Linked DNA regions of Homo sapiens: region 2 is linked to region 1. Evidence: fine-mapped expression QTL. Tissue or cell type: whole blood. Region 1 holds a variant in brackets; the other region holds the start of a gene. All regions are shown on one strand. Distances are from middle to middle.

What was found. PIP is the estimated chance that this variant, and not a neighbour inherited with it, causes the effect.
Region 2: PTPA starts here. The variant in region 1 is fine-mapped to the expression of PTPA in whole blood (TOPMed, PIP 0.98).

Annotation. Positions count from the first base shown.
Region 1 is chr9:129,147,406-129,150,161 of GRCh38, reverse strand. PTPA (protein phosphatase 2 phosphatase activator) reads right to left here. Exons shown (of 10, transcript NM_178000.3): 10 at 1,216-2,756. The coding sequence ends at 2,698. Among named protein-coding and RNA genes, the nearest start is that of IER5L, 29 kb to the left of the region's middle. RefSeq lists enhancers at 1,104-1,604, 1,639-1,738. The variant T/A (reference allele first, on the strand shown) is at 1,636.
Region 2 is chr9:129,110,274-129,112,773 of GRCh38, reverse strand. PTPA (protein phosphatase 2 phosphatase activator) reads right to left here and starts at 1,359. Exons shown (of 10, transcript NM_178000.3): 1 at 1,143-1,359. The coding sequence starts at 1,173. It overlaps CRAT (carnitine O-acetyltransferase), which reads left to right and starts at 1,981. Exons shown (of 14, transcript NM_000755.5): 1 at 1,981-2,291. The coding sequence starts at 2,265. RefSeq lists silencers at 1,046-1,095, 1,786-2,225 and enhancers at 623-1,163, 1,096-1,375.

The DNA.
Region 1 (2,756 bases):
CCCTTCCTGTTAGCGACACCAAATGCAGCCTAAATTGGACCACTTCCCACCATCCCACTCTGAACCCTCACCCAGGCCACTATCCCTGTGCCCAATCACAACTACAACCTCCCAAATGGTCCTATCTCCCCTTCTCCCCAACAAAACCTTCCAGCACCTTCCCATAGAACACTGTCCAAACTCAGCAGAGCCCGCAAGGCCCCGGCCTAAAAGTCTGGCCCCTATACCCAACCCTAGCCCTCCAGGCCCAGGCCTGAGCTCTCCACAGCGGCTCTTTCTTGTCCTCAGGGTCTCAGCTCACAGGACCTTTTAGAGCAAGTAACCCCCTGCCCTGCCCCCATCAACGCCTTCTCTAATTGACGTTATTTTCTCCATAATCCACCGGCTACCTAACACTGTCATATCTGGGTGCACTGCAGTCATGAGGAACATGCAGCCACTATTTGTGAAATGAAGGAATCCTCAAGACCAATGATAGGAACGTCATTATGCCCATTTTTCAGATCAGGAAGCTGAGGCTCAGAGAGAAGTCAACCATGAGGGCCCTCTACTTCCTGGTGAGTAAGCAGCAGCTGCTCAGTTTGAACTCGGGTGTGCCTGAGGCAGCGCAAGGTGATGAGGGGCTGAGGCTTTCCAGTCCATGCAAGGCCTCTAAGGCCAAGAGAAAGGTCAAGGACCCTTGTTCTCTGAGCAAGAGTGTCTTAAGGAAGTCTGGGGCACAGCAGCCCCAGAGACCCTCAACTCCAGCCCAGCAGGGACAGGAGGGGCAGAGGAGGGAGAATAGAGGGCCACCCCCTCACAAACCACAGGTGCATGTTCCACTGTCAAAGCCCATCCAAAGGCTCCCTGGCCAGCTTGGGGCTAAGTTGGGAGTCCAGAGGGGCCCCCTTCACCAAGCACAGCTGCAGTGACCACCCGGGATATGCTATGTGCCAGGCCCTGAGCTGAGGACTTCACATCTGCTGTCCACTGCTGGCAGTCACCCTGTGACTGTCCCCATTTTGTGAATTGAGGAAGCTGGGGCTCAGGGGCTTCAGTAACTTACAACCTTGCAGCTGGGACTGCAGACAGCTAGGATTTAAACCCAGGAAAGGCTCAACCCAAATTGAAACAGCTCGTCTCAGACACTGTGGCCTGAGAGAAGGGGACCTGATGGAGGTCAGTCATGCAGAAATGGGTTAAACATGTGACATGAAAAGACATACCTCACACAAGTGACAGGTGCAAAACAGAGGCTTTAATCTGAACAGCAATGAGGGTGCAAGGGGCTGGGAGCCCATAGGGGGATGGGGGAGCCAGGAAGGGCTGTCTGGCCCTGGGAGAGAGGTGGACGCTGGGCCTCTTCTGAGAAACTGTCACTGACCTTTGGGACTCCTGACCCAGCCTCTGCCCAGACCATCACCGGATCCCAGGCTGAGCCCCTGTGCTGTGCTTCTCAGTGCTCCCCCTTCCTGAAGGGTGTGTGGACCCAGACACAGGAGGGGGCAGTGGAGAAGGGCAGGCCTGGGGGACGAGCCTGTAAGAGCCAGGCCCAGGAACAGCCCTAGGAGAAACCTCGGCGGTGGCCCTCAATGGGCCTGCCCAGCCCCCACTGGGCCCATTCTGAGTGCCAAAGCCTGGGCTTGGGAGGCTGTC[T/A]CTTACCTCACCCTATAAAAGCAATGGACAGTTCAGGGAGGTGGGAGGACAAGGTGTGGGACTGCCACCTTCTGGGCCCACCCATCACCCAGGGGAGCAGAGAAGCAGGGCCCAGGGGCCCAGGGTGAGGCTCACAGCAGCGCAAAGGTAGCAGAAGTGGCCGGGCCTAAGACTGCCAAGAGGAATCCAGGCTCTCCAGATACAATGGGCCCCAAGCCCCTCCCTGAGTTTCTGCCATCCCCTCCCTGCCAGGGAAAGTTCTGGAAAGACATGCCTCACCCCATCATCTGGGCCCTCCCAGGAGCCCAGCACCTACCCAAAGGGCAGCTTCCATTGGCTAGGTTACCCTTAGGGAGCGGGAGAGATGTGGCTACAGTCAGGAAACCCAGCAGAGCCAAGGGCTAGAGAACTGAAGAGCCAGGGGGAGGCTTGGACACAGGGGGCCTCAGGCCCAGGGGGCAGGGTGAAAAGGAGCCTGGGAGGGGCACCAGCCAGGACAGCTAAGGCCTCTCCACCACCCGACCCCACCCACCCCACCCCAGCCCACAGCTGGCGGCCAGCCTCAGCTTCCAGCCCTACCATAGATGGCCACCCCGGCATGGCCTGGGAAACTGACCCGCCCCTGCAAGGAGCAGCTCCAACCCTTAGAAAGGCATCGACTCCAGGAAGGGAAAAGCAATGGAAGCAGCAGGTATCTCTCCTCCCTTCCCTGCGGTGCTGCAGAACAGCCCCTGCTCTCAAAACCAGACTGGACGGGAGTGAAGGGAGAAGAGGCCAGAAACAGGAGAGAGTGGCCGAGTGACCAGGCCCCAGACCCTCTCTTCTGGCCAGTCTAGCACACGGGAACTCAGAAAACTGGCTACACTTTGGTCACTTCTCCCAACTTGGGCCCTGAAGCCTTATGCTCTGAGCCCCCTCAAGCCCATCTCGCCACCCCACCCCAGTAAACAGCCTCTCATCAAACGGGACGAACAGAGGGAGGGGATGGGGAGGGGCCACTGCTGGGGTGGGGAAGGCAGGCACAGGAACTGTGGCCTGGGTGGCTCTTCGGCTTGGCCCCTCCTAGCCCGACGTGACAGGATGGATGGGCAGCAGGCTCCCGAACTTGAAGTGCTGGATCA
Region 2 (2,500 bases), 37 kb after region 1:
GACGGAGTTTCTCCATGTTGGTCAGGCTGGTCTCGAACTCCCGACCTCAGGTGATCAGCCCGCCTCGGCCTCCCAAAGTGCTGGGATTACGGGCATGAGCCACCGCGCCTGGCCTGGACATCCTTGTTCTAAGGGCACACACCCAGAGGTTTTGTACAAAATAAATGTCTGGTTTTGAATGTCCTAAGAAACGGAACCCAGCTCTTTGTTCACCTCTTTTGTGGGGCATGGAGGGGATGCCTTTTCTGATTTTCAACATTTCTCCCTCCTGAGACCTTCCCAGGGACCCCAACATTGGAGACAGGATAGCAAGAATATCAAATGCTTTCAAAACATTAGCTGTGTTTGGTCGGCCAACCTATTTGCCTCTGTCGGGAATGTAAAAGTTATCTATGGCCAGTCCTTCTTAGTTCAAGGTAGGTCGGCAAACAGCCTTCTCCTTCTGCACAAAAAGGGTCTCTAAGATCCTTCCGTAGCACCTCCATCCCAGTTATTTAAGATGAACTAAAAAGAGGCTACAAGGTAAATAAGAGTTACCGAAGGAGATGCCGGAGAGACTAACCTCCTTGCACAACCAGCCTTTTAAAATTAGGGATTTAGACACCACGGGCAGTTTCCCTCAATAAATTCTCAGGCACTGGAACCAGAGAGTAGGAGGATGAGGGGTGAGCAGGACGCGGAGGCCGAAACTGGAGGCGAGGCGGGCGCAGGCCCACGGAGCACCACCCCATCCCCTAAGCAGCGACTAATAAAGACGGCAGCCTCCGGAATCACTTTCGCCCCCCTCCCTGGCAGCTTCCCCACCGAGTCAGCAGCTTACTTAAGCACGCGCTGCCCAGAGATGCAAAAGGCCCCCTTATGACCACGGCGCTGCCCACCCAGCATTCGGGCAGCCTGGACTCCCACAAAACCCAGAGTTGCGCCCCAATCACCACCCCTTTGCAGCCCCTGGTTCCCTCCCCAGCGGCGCCCCACCACCCACCTCTCCCCTAAGGCCATTCAACTCAGTCCCTCCTCGGGGCCCCTCAGCTTTTGCCCCTCCAGTTCCTCCGTGTCATGACTCTCGCCCTCCTGAGCCTCCCACACCTGGCACCGCCCCCACCCTACCCGACCCCGGCCCGGCCTGGCCCCGCCGGCCTTACCTGGCGGCGGCTGCCGCTCGCCCTCAGCCATCTTGCTCCGGCCAGGAGCCGACCCGGATGCTTGCAGTCCCCTCTCGCCTTTCACTCTTGCACCCACCCTTCCTCTCCCCGGCTCCACCAAAGGCTCCGAGCTTCCTGAAGACAAGTGAGCGCCGGCCGGCTATAACCGAAAACCGAGAGTTAAAGTCACCACAGCGAAGACGGCCGCCATGTCGGTGCGGGGCGCTCAGGGAGCAAGCCTATTAACGGCCGGCGCGCGGCGGACGCGCGGAACCGGGCGACGGCCATGTCAGTGCGGGGCGCGCGGGGCGCATGCGCGCCAACGGCCGCCAAGCGCTAGGACCGCTCACGGCCGCCCGAACGTCGGGCGCCGCGACTGCCACGATTGTGCGGGGCGTCAAGTTTGGGTTGTGCTCAGCCATGTTTTTCCGGGACAGTCTCCTGTCCCGGAGTACCACCTGTCATCTTTGTGGGTGGTACTGACCCTAACCCAAGGAATATTAGAGGACATTCCCCGGTCAACATGGTTGTGTTTTCCTATCACTCTAAGAGTTAGGCTCAAGGACACCAGACGGAGTTGGAAAGGTGCACACCACTACCTCCAACAGCTTAGAAGACATGTGGGGACAGGGGAGAGACAGCTGGACGGTGACCTCCTCCTTCCTCCTCCACAGGTCTCAATGACTCGCCCTCGGCCCTGCCCCTCTGTCCCCGCCCGCCGTGGTCCCGCCCCCGACTCGCAGCCAGCCTACTGCGACCCGCTACCGGGCGACGCCCCGCCCCTCCGTCCCCGCCCCTCCTGTCCCTCCTCAAGGAGACTCCGCCCCATCGATGCCCCGTCCCCGCCCCACAGCCAACCTCCCGGGCACCGTTGCCCGCCCGGGGCCCGCTACCGGCCCAGGCCCCGCCTCGCGAGTCCTCCTCCCCGGGTGCCTTCCCGCAGCCCGCTCGGCCCAGAGGGTGGGCGCGGGGCTGCCTCTACCGGCTGGCGGCTGTAACTCAGCGACCTTGGCCCGAAGGCTCTAGCAAGGACCCACCGACCCCAGCCGCGGCGGCGGCGGCGCGGACTTTGCCCGGTGTGTGGGGCGGAGCGGACTGCGTGTCCGCGGACGGGCAGCGAAGATGTTAGCCTTCGCTGCCAGGACCGTGGTGAGTGCGGCGGATCCCGGGCCTGAGGGCCCTGGACGGCCTGGGCGGGCCGTGCGGTTGCGTCCGGGAACGGAGACCGCGTCCTGCGGCCGCTGTTCGACCCGGCCTCCAGCTGATGGGGTGGGGTCAGGCGGGCGTCCCAGGTTTGGCAGAGCAGGAGATTGGGGCGCAAGGTCAGAAGCGGGATTAAACCCACGTCCTGGAGCATT